Regions from separate parts of the Homo sapiens genome. Here region 2 is linked to region 1. A link means that fine-mapping ties the variant in region 1 to the expression of a gene that starts in the linked region. Tissue or cell type: whole blood. Region 1 holds a variant in brackets; the other region holds the start of a gene. All regions are shown on one strand. Distances are from middle to middle.

What was found. PIP is the estimated chance that this variant, and not a neighbour inherited with it, causes the effect.
Region 2: it holds the start of PTK2, and the variant in region 1 is fine-mapped to the expression of PTK2 in whole blood (TOPMed, PIP 0.98).

Annotation. Positions count from the first base shown.
Region 1 is chr8:140,858,616-140,863,615 of GRCh38, reverse strand. All of the region lies in intron 5 of PTK2 (protein tyrosine kinase 2), which reads left to right. Among named protein-coding and RNA genes, the nearest start is that of MIR151A, 130 kb to the right of the region's middle. The variant C/G (reference allele first, on the strand shown) is at 2,873.
Region 2 is chr8:140,999,098-141,005,413 of GRCh38, reverse strand. PTK2 (protein tyrosine kinase 2) reads left to right here and starts at 4,132. Exons shown (of 36, transcript NM_001352702.2): 1 at 4,132-4,289. RefSeq lists silencers at 3,698-4,117, 4,138-4,467.

The DNA of each region.
Region 1 (5,000 bases):
ACTGAAAAGCATCATTTGAGGAGTCTTCAACTTTGTAGAAAAGGAAGAGTTGTGTTTTCTAGACAAGAACACGGAGGGGAGAGAGAAAATGTGGTGCAGTCTTAGCTAAAATAGTTCATAACATTTTGGTGAGAGAGGGACCACAAACATTATGTAAACAGGGGTTTAGGTTTTCTCCTGCAGATATTGGGAGCCATTTAAAAACGTTAGTTAGCAAATGCCGTAACCAGAATTTTTTTTTTTGAGACCACTCTGATTAGATGGCAGTATCAGGGATAGATTGAATTTTTAAAAGGTTGCAAGCATGTTTAGAGGCTCTTCAATCATTCTGGCAAGAAATTAAATAAAAGTGAAAGTATATTATAATAAGCAAATTTAGTGGATGGATTTGATAGGACCCAGAGATTGAACTAAAACAGAATATGAAAATAAGGAAGAAAAAGGCTTATTATGTAAGTCTAGGCACTTACTGCCATGAAAGAGCAATGGTGGATTAGATTCAAAAGAAGGAGGTAAGAAGGTAAGTTGTTCTATATTTTTCTATGTGAGATAATGATAGATGTTACCATTTAAAAGATTCAAGCTGAGAGAGTAGGAAGCTAAGGAAGTTTCCAGCTGTTGGCGGGGGTGTGTCTGTTTTCATCTTGTCTGTGAAGAAGTAGTCACATAGGAGATAGGTTGGGGCCTGCTGCTTTACCTAACACCTTTTTGGCACCAGCGACTGGTTTTGAGGAGGACAGTTTTTCTACAGACCAGGGCCACAGGGTGTGGCAGGGTGGGGTGTGGGGGAATGATTTCGGGATGAAACTGTTTGACCTCAGATCATCAGGCCTTAGGTTCTCATAAGGAATGCGCAACCTAGATCCCTCACACGTGCACCTCACAACAGGGTTTGCGCTCCTATGAAAATCTTATGCCACTGCTTATCTGACAGGAGGCAGAGCTCAGGCGGTAATGCTCGCTTGCCCACAGCTCACCTCCTGCTGTGTGGCCTGGTTCCTAATAGGCTACTAACTGGTACTGATCCATGGCCCAGGGTTTGGGGAACCTTGAGGTAAGGGATTGGTGACAAGTTTTGAGGGTTTACGATAATACAGAGTTGAATATGAAAGGGAGTTAAGTTGGTAAAATGGAAAGATTAAGAAGGCGTTTTTAGATTCCAGCTGAGCTTATTGGAAGCCTACTCATTGCAAAAATAATTTTCATCTTACAGACTGGTTCTCATGTATTATTACATCTCATCCTTTAGGAATCTGTTGAACTTCATATTTTGGCGAAGGAGATAACAAGAGAGTTTAAATAACTCATGTTTATTTAGCATTTTTCTCTTGGTATGTGATCTGTGTCACTACTTGTATTACTTCTTTGAAAAAAAATTCTACCCACCGAGGAAATACATGGGTACTTTAGTAACATTGATTTCCAGAATGCATAATACAGGCTTAAGTGACTCCTTTTTATAATTTCTAGGCTAACCTAAAAGTCTGCAACTTTTTTGTTCCTAGTTCACACTGTTACTAGGTTGTCCTACTTTTTCTTTGTTGGAAGACTTTCCTATATGATAAAGTGAGTACTGCACATACCAATGTATCCCAGATTTTCTTTTACTAATAGGATATATTTTATGGTAGTCTATAGAATTCAGTTCAGCGGTCTTTATAAAACCCAAGAGAAAGCTAAATGTAATGAACCTATTAAAAATTCAGTCTATCCCTGATACTGCCATCCAGTCAGAGTGGTCTAAAAAAAATTCTGATCAAGGCATTCACTAAGTATAGTTAAGTGTTAATGAAATTTCGCTTAAAGGAATATGCAGTGAATACAGTCGTGTGCTTGTTCTGTATATAATAGCTCTGTGATTTTAGGTACCTCTGAGTCTCTTTGTGCTTAATTGTTTCATATACTAAAATATAGATATGGAATAACTATTGTATAGGACTGTTAAGTTCATTATATGAGATAAAATTGTCTGCCATATAATTGCCCAGTGATATTTTGAATTTCAGTCTGTAGACAGTAACAGACTTAGAGGATTCAGCATTTGCCATTTGCATATCACCATACAAGTGTGAGCTGCACATTATGGGATGGTACATAGCTTGCCTTTTCCTTCCTATGTGCACTCTGTAGAGCCTTTCAGCTCCTCCACCCCACTCTTTGCTGTCATTCATTTCTACAGTTTCTCTTCTTGTCTTTTTAATTTTTAAAAATCTGTTAAATTATATGGTACATTTTAATATTTTTAAAAATTTTATTTTATTTTTATAGAGACAGGGTCTTGCTCTGTTGCCCAGTCTGGAGTGTAGTGGCATGATTATACCTCACTGCAGCCTTGAACTTCTGGGCTCAAGCAATCGCCCTGCCTCAGCCTCCTGAGTAGTTGGGACTACAGGTGCGTGCCATGATGCCTCGCTAATTTTTAAAAAGTCTTTTGTAGAGATGGGGGTCTTGCTATGTTACCCACCCAAGCTGGTCTCAAATTCCTGTCCTGAAGCAGTCCTTCCGCCCTGGCCTCCCAAAGTGCTGGGAGTATAGGCATGAGCCACCATGCTTGGCATGGCACACTTTTAGAAAGTTCAAAAAATAATTCTAAAACATTACTTAAATTATCTCTATTCTAATAATCACTTTCATTTTGTGTATCCTTTTGTAATAGTTTATCAAGTACATACATTTTAAAAGAAAGTATAGTCATGGTCACATTCCTTTCCCATTGGTGATTGGCAATGTCGTTGTTTTTCCGTGCTAGTATTTCAGGCTCAAGTAATGGTAATTGGAGGAAGTTAAAGGTGGTACCAAAGTCATAAAAAGGGAAGGGAGGAAGAAAGAAAATACTATGATTGTCTGGGTGCGGTGGCTAACGCCTGTGATC[C/G]CAGCACTTTGGGAGGCCGAGGCGGGTGGATCACCTGAGGTCAGGAGTTCGAGACCAGCCTTGGCCAACATGGCAAAACTCCGTCTCTACTAAAAATAAAAAGATTAGCAGAGCATGGTGGTACACACCTGTATCCCAGCTACTGAGGAGCTGGGGCAGGAGAATAGCTTGAATCCAGGAGGCAAAGGTTGCAGTGAGCCAAGATCATGCCACTGCACTCCAGCCTGGGCGACAGAGCAAGGCCCTGTCTCAACAAAAACAAAATACTATGATTTGTCAAAATGCATGAATTGGCCAGTATACCAAAAGCCTTGAGTATGTTCACGTCCTCCAGTTTGTTGGGTGACCCTGTTGACTGCCATCTTTACCGTAAGTAAAAAACAGTTGAAACGTTGGCAGTTCCCTATGATTGGACCTAATAATTCTACTTTTATGAATTTATTCAAAAGAAATAAGATTTACACATGTATGCATACATGTACAAGGGTGCTTATAAGCATATTACAGTAACAAGAAAGAAATTAGAGGCGTTGCAGATGTCTTTCAACAGGTTAGTTGTACTGAGTTTCAAATTTATGTATCCCTCATTAACAGGGAGGTACAACTGTTCATGGATGTGGAAGGTATTAACAGCATTAAATGCTGTTGTTTAAAACAGGCCATGTATAAAACCTGTATAATTTTCGTTTATGTGGGAAAAAAATGCATATTTTTAAATTTTAGCCTGATCTGGCAAGAAAGTTTTGAATATACTATGAGTTTTTATTGCTGGTTTGGTAAGTAATTATATATTTGACTTCTCCTGGTAAAGTCTCAATGCAGAATCTGCCCTGCTACATGCTTCGCAATTCCAGAACTGTTATAAGTGATCCATATATTGTCCTGCACAGGCAGCACCCAACTTGGGAAAGGGTTTAATTCCAAAGTTGCAAAATCAGTTTGGAATCCAGAGGTTTCTGCTATTTAAACACACATGTCGGGGGTGGGCGGGAGGGGGGGCACAGATAAATCAGTAATTGTCCTCATCAGCTTTCTATAGCCAGCGTATATTTATCTGAGAATGCAGCTGAAACGTTACGTAAGTATTGTGTGTGAGAACCTTCACTGAAGTGTGAGATAAATTAGTCACTTTATAATGGCCTCAGAATTTGATGATACGCATTCTCTAACCTTTAAAGTCTTTAATATTTGATGCAAACATTTAAGATGGATACATATATACATAACATACTTCCACTGAATTCTAGGCTAAATCAGTGATTTTTATGGGGCTCAGAATTTGATGACATTGATAATTTTTAATTCTGTAGATTCTATAATATCTGATATATGTTTATTCTTTTATAAGGTGTGATAATTGATGATAAAATGAATACCCATGACCCTACTGCTCAGATGAAAAGAACATCCTGATACTTCCCTGTCCCATGTTCCTGTGGCCCACCTCACTGTACACACTGCCCTTTCACTCCACTCAGTGTACCATTATCCTGAATTTTGTATTTATCATTCCCATGCTTGCTTTTGTTTGCCAGTTGTCATGCTTTACAACATGTTTTTATTCTTCAGTTCTACCCTTAAGGTAAAAGCTGACCTTAAGTTCTCCCATAGACTTCTCTATTCCTGTCATTAGCTTGAGTATTTTCTGTTTTGTTTTGTTTCCCAGCTCACGTAAGCATTCAAGAAGATTTTAAAAAAATAATTTGTTCAGCGGTTTTAGTTGCTTTCAGCTAGGTGGTTGGTCAGGACATTCAGTATACCTTGTTGGTATAAATGGAAAAGTGATCATCCGTGGATTTAATAATTTATCTCTTTTGGCTCATTTTGAAAATAATTTTGCATTGTAGTCAAGAGACTGTGGCTCATTTGATACTAATTGTTTAAGTTCCGTATGGACTTGTTTCATCACCTTGCACATATTTAGATATTGTTAAGGTTCCAGTTTTGCTTGAGTGGAATGTGTCTTCTGTAATTGTTTGGCACAGGCTCAATAAATAGCCATTATTTCAAGATTTTTAATTGTGTTATTTAGATCCATTTTTCTAATGTTCTTTTTTTCTCCTGCTTGAAAAATAGTATTGCTGGGTACACAAATCAGGGTAGGCATTTTCTGTCAGTATTTTGATGG
Region 2 (6,316 bases), 140 kb before region 1:
ATCTTACTGGATCAAAAATTACCCCAGGCACCTGTCCCCTGGGTCTCACTTTCTCTCATCCCAGCTTCTCCAGACAGATCTGCAGGGTGGTCAGCTGTGATGTGGGCAGGAACCTGGGCTTCAGTGTCTCTTCAGTGATATCAGCTTCCACGCCCCCATGACTGTGCATCCACCCCTGGCCTTAATGTGTGTTTCTGCTTCTCCAGCGTGAGTGAGCCCCTCCTGGGAGGGAGCCCTTAGCCGACCAGGGAGGTGGGGGGCTTTTCAAGGGGGAACTGCTCCCAGGCTCACTGCAGCTGCTCTGCCAACACACAGGAAGCTCTTCCTGAAAGCTTCCCACGCAAGGTCAGCGCTCACCCCATCTGGTGCAGTGCAGGAAGGGGAGAAGCCAAATTGTGTTCTCTGTTTGGTTTTTTTTTTTTTTTTTGTATGGGATATGAGTGCATCAGAGACTGCGCTGGGGAGAGGAAGGAGCACAGGCTTTGCAGTTGGACAGATGCAGCCTTGAATTCCAGCCCTGCTATCTGACTCATTGCTGCTGCTACTTCTTCTTTTTTTTTTTTTTTTTTCTGAGCAGTAGTTTTCTTTTCCTTTTTTTTTTTTTTTTTTTTTTTGAGATGGAGTCTTGCTTCTTCACCCAGGCTGGAGTGCAATGGCCCAACCTCAGCTCACTGTAACCTCCGCCTCCTGGGTTCGAGCAATTCTCCTGCCTCAGCCTCCCAAGTAGCTGGGATTACAGGCACGTGCCAGCACACCCGGCTAATTTTTGTATTTTTAGTAGAGACAGGGTTTCACTGTGGTTGGCCAGGCTGGTATCGATCTCCTGACCTCAAGTGATCCGCCCGCCTCGGCCTCCCAAAGTGCTGGGATTATAGGCGTGAGACACTGCGCCCAGCTGTCTGAGCAGTAGTTTTCAAATTTATAAAATGGAGGTGCCGATAATAGCGTCTACATCACAGGGTTGCTATGAGGTCTGGAGACAGCGTATTCAGGTTCTGACCCACAGAGACTGAGAGAAGTCAGCCTTCCTTGACTCTGTGCTCTGGTGGTCCTTTGCATACCCCTCCATCATCATGCAAATTATTAGTAATCGATAAAGCAATGCTATAGTCGATCAATAACACTTATATATGCTAAGCACCCTGCTGTTTTATGAGAATGGTTTGTTTCCTCTACAACCTAATTTTTTTTTTTGAGATGGAGTCTTGCTCTGTCACCCAGGCTGGAGTGCAGTGGCGCCATCTCCACCCACTGCAAGCTCTGCCTCCCGGGTTCACGCCGTTCTCCTGCCTCAGCCTCCCGAATAGCCGGGACTACAGGCGCCCGCCACCACGCTGGCTAATTTTTTTGTATTTTTAGTAGAGACGGGGTTTCACCTTGTTAGCCAGGATGGTCTCAATCTCCTGACCTCATGATCCACCCGCCTTGGCCTCCCACAGTGCTGGGATTACAGGTGTGAGCCACCGTGCCCGGCCTCTCTACAGCCTAATTCTAATGTACATCCTTTAGAGCCTCCATTTCACAGATGAGAAATTGAGGCTCAGAGACATTATACAACCTTCACAGGTTTATTGGTGAATGGTTAAACTTAAGCCTGGGTCTGTGCCAATGTTCATCTTACTCCTAAACCTGAGTTCTCAGGCACCACAAAGTGTGCCCAAGAGGTAAGACAAGCCACTGTTTCCTAGGTTTGTCCCTTTTCCCGTTTGTATCTCTGTTTGCCCTTCTCCTTTGCATCACTTCTTCCCGCCGTTTTCTGATTTCTTCTTTTACTAAGCATAATAATAACCAAAGCTGCCCTTCAAGAACGTCAATTTCAAATGTATCGTGGCAGAGTCCAGGAAACAATATTGTGTAACACACTACCCTAAAACCTAAAGGCTTAAAACCACATGTATTTTATTGGCTCACAATTCTGTGGTTTGGCAATTTGGGTTGGATTCAGCTGGGCAGTTCTTCCATCAGTCTCTCCAGGTCTTATGTATGCTTCACAGGGGCTGGGTGGTCTAGTACAGCTCACTCACATGTCTGGAGGTGGCACCTTGTTGGCCAGGGTGCCTCAGTTCTCTTCCACACGGCCTCCTCGTGAGGCTAGCTTGGGCTTAAGGGGGGAAAATGAAAGCAGCATGGCCTCTTGAGGCCTAGGCTTGGAATTTGTACAATGTCACTTGTGACACATCCCATTGGTCAAAGCAAGTTACAAGATCCCATCCACATTCAAGGGGTGAATAAATTCCACCTCTTCTTGGGAAAAGTGTCAAAGAATTGATGGCCATTTTTAGTCTACTATGCTAAGTGCAGCCCCTTCCCCCAAAGTTATCCTTAATGCAGTCCCTTTGTGCCTCCACTCTCCTCTTTTAATTCCCATGCTTTTCTTATCCTTTTAATAATAAGCTCTCACTTCACATCACCCAAAGCTTCGTTCATTCACTTGACAAATACTTACTGTGTGCCAGGACCTATTAGTGAACAAAACAAAGCCCGTGCTCTAATGAATCTAAGATTCTAGTGGAGAGAGCGGACAATCAAGAAATAAACAAGAACACAGTGTTGGGCTATGGTGAACAATAGGTGCTTTGGAGAACAACAGAGCAGACTAAGTGCGGACTGTGTGTGAGGATAGCAGGGCAGTGGGTGGTTCCTATTATATGAAGTGGTCGGCTGTATCAATGAGGTGATATATAAGCAGGGTATTGAACGAAGTGAGGAGCAAGAAGTTCCAGGCAGAGCAAATAGCACGCGCAAAGGCCTGAGGCTGGCATGGAGAGGCAATTCCTTACAATTTCATATGTAGTAAAAAGTAACAAAACCCAGAAAAACACCAACCTTAATACATCTCATTAAAGAACAATACAACCCAAACATTTAAATATGGTAAAATCTTGATAAGCAAAAGCTTTTTATTTTACTTCATTTTTACTTTTATAAAAGCTCCTAATGCAATGACGTGTGTCACCTCTCTGGGCTTCAGGGTGTTCACCTTTCAAAAGGCCTCGGTGCCTGTCTGTCCTGCTTCCTGGCTTGTGGTTAGCATCAAAATGACACCATAAAAATGAAAGTTGCAGCCTTGAGGGTTCTTCTGGTTTCATTTCCGACCACAAGGTTGCCAGAGTGACTTTTTTTTTTTTTTAAATAACACAAATCAGTTATCACTTCCTGCTTAAAGCCCTCCAAAGGTTCCCTGTTGCCTAAAGAATAAACTCCAGGCACCTAAGCAAGCCCCACGCAGCCGTCTGCATTTTTCAATCCCTCCAACCTCGCCTTTTGCTATTTCCCCCACCCCACCTACGGCACGTTCCGGTCATAACCAACTAGCTCCTCGCTGAAACTGGCTCACACCGCGGAAGCCCGGGTCGGTGTCGGGGCGAGCCTTCCCTCCTTTTCCTGGAGCCCGTCTCAGGTCTGTAGCCCTCGGGAGGGATTGCAGGGCTCGTTCCCTGCTGGCGTTCATTTAGGTAACCTGTCTACCTCCAGTGGACTTCTAAGTCCCTTTCATGATTTTTCATCTTCCAAAATCAAATAATGGCCCAGCCCAACTTAGCTATAATGCCATGAAAAGAATCTCTGAGCCTCAGTTTCCTTGTCTGCAAAAAGGGCCCAGGAACCGCTCGTTAGGGTCGGTGTGGTGCCTGGAGAGTGCACTGCAAGGCCCGGGGCCCGCAGCGGGTGCCCGACAGCGGGCGTCCAACTCTGGGGGCGGGGCCGCAGGGCCGCTCAGGAGGGAGGTTCTCCAGAGGGGACCCCTTCGGGATTTGGGGGCAGGGAAGGAGATGGGGAGGACTTTCCCGAAGTCCGTCTAATCCCGCTGGCGGAGAGCGAGGCAGGTGGGACCCCAGGATGTCCGCTCGGCGGGGCGACCCCGGCCACCCCCGAGACCAGGGCTTTCCTCGTCCGGCCGCCACGCCCGCGCGCAGCCTCGGGCCACCCCGAAACCCCGGCGCGGTCACTACAGGACAAATTACGCGAGCAGAGCCTAGCGGCGCGCTGGGCATGCGCGGGGGCGGCGCGCATGCCCAGTCCCCCCGAGAGGCGGGAACTCCGGACTGAGACCGGGTCGGGCGTGCGCTGCCGAGAGAGGACGCGCGCCTCAGCCGGCTGCCGCGCACGCGCGCGGGCCCGCGCCGACGCAGCACGGCCTCGAGGGCGCGAGCCCGCGCCGCCGCCGCCGCCGCCGGTCCCGGACCACTGTGAGCCCGCGGCGTGAGGCGTGGGAGGAAGCGCGGCTGCTGTCGCCCAGCGCCGCCCCGTCGTCGTCTGCCTTCGCTTCACGGCGCCGAGCCGCGGTCCGAGTGAGTGCGGGGCGCCGGGCGCGGGGCGCGGGTCGGGGGCTGGGCGGGCTCCTTCTGTGCAGCGGTCGTGGGCTGGGCCGCGGCCCTGAGGGCGGAGGGGCAGAGCGGGGCCGCCCAACCAGTCCCGGGGCGGATGCGGCGGAGACCGGCCCCTCCCGCGCCCCCGGCCCGGGTTCTGGGAGGAGGGGAGGCCGGTGGCCGTGAGGAGGTTGGGGGCCCTCGCGGAGGCCGAGAGGCTTAAGGAGGTCAGGGGGCGCGCTGGGAGGCGGGGGTTCGGGGCGCTGGGTGGTCGGGAGGCTTGGGGAAGACTGGGAGGCTGAGGGACGTGGGGAGGCCGGGAGCTCGAGGAGGTCGGGGGTTTTGGGGGCGCGCGGGGAGGCCAAGGGGTTCGGGGAAGACAGAAAGGCTGGGGGACGTGGGGAGTCCGGGAGACGTGAGGAGGAAGGGGGGGGCGGCTTTCGAAAAGGCCGGGCGCGCGGAGAGGCCGAGGGGCCTGAGGAAGACGAGGAGGCCGGGGCTCTGGGGGCGCGCAGGGCGGACAGAGGCGCGGGGAGGACGGGCCGGCCTCCGCCGGAGCGGACCCAATGCCTGAAAAACAAAAGGGGAGAGGCAGGAGGAGGAAGAGGGAAATCGCAGGGACGTCGGCAGGGTTCGCCCGGACGCGAGAGGGAGGCTCGCGACGGCCCGACCTCCGTCCCCCGGGCGCGGCCTCGCGGGCAGCCAAGGGTGGGCTCCGAGCGGCCTGCCGGTGCCCGAGCCCCAAGCCCGCCGTGTCCCCGAACGCAAACCCTCAAGTTTGGTAGAGCCCCGTGGGCTTCTTGGCGGGAGCCCTGGAGCCCTCACTGAAGTCCTCACTGGAGTCATTGTGCTTCCCAAGTTTTCTCCTCTTCCCCGCCCCCAGCCCCCGACTCTGCCGCGGTGGCTTAGGCGCAACTGTTTGCCGAATTTCTCTCTGGGTTCCTTGTGTAGCGGCATCCTGTTCTTTCTTAGAAGAAGGGGTGTGTGTGTGTGTGTGTGTGTGTGTGTGTGTGTGTGTGAATTGGTTTCATTTAATTGCAGAATTTTGTAGCTAAATTCAGTGAGGGTAAAGTTTCTTTTTTTTTTTTTTTCCGAGTCATTTCAACAGTGTCTCATTCTTGCATAGTTAGCCTGCAGCTGGGTTTTTGGCAATGAGACTAAGATAATAGTAATATTGTAGTAATTATGGGAACTGGTTATACATTCAAGCTGAAAGCTGAAGGCAGTGCAAGAGTTTGGGGATTTGTATTTAAGACTTAACCATCGCTAGGATTTTTACTTAGAATGTAAACGTTTTCATGGCTGGAAAAACAGACCAGTACTATTTGAAATGAAATACCAGAGCCTCAACCTTAATATTTTATTTGGGAAACGGGTAATGAAAATGATGTCTTCGAGAGTTGAGCACTCCGTCCCATATTTGAAAACTTATGAGCAGTGCGATGCAAGCACACGGATGAACTAGTTACAAGACACATAAAAGTAAACTAGCATTCAACGTATTTTTGTTGGGGTACAGTATAGATAATATTTTCATCCAGTTATACTAGCCAATTAATTAGAAAAGCCCTATGATATTCAAACAAGGAACATTTTAAGGATGTTTGTGTCCCAATATCTTTGTGTTTTGTATTTGTGGTTATCCTTGGTGGGGAAAAACAGGCTGAACCTACCATCATTTTGAACCTTCTTGTTTATTAAACTGCAGAAACAACAAGATCAATATTACAAGGTTTTCCTTTAAAGAATTTCAGGTCACTATCAAATAATCTAGTTTAATAATGAACACAGGCACAGATTATTTAAAACACATGCTTCCTTTATAAGGGAGCCGACAATCACCTAAGACTTCAGTGTAGACGCTGATTAGAAGGACCCATACATCATTCAGTGGTGATGCATCAAGAAGCAAGTCATTGGTTAAATAAAGACATGGAAATCAAAACTCCATGTTTACGGTTTGGGGCAAAGAATACTGGGGCAAACTCTGAGAGGAGATGGGACTTAAA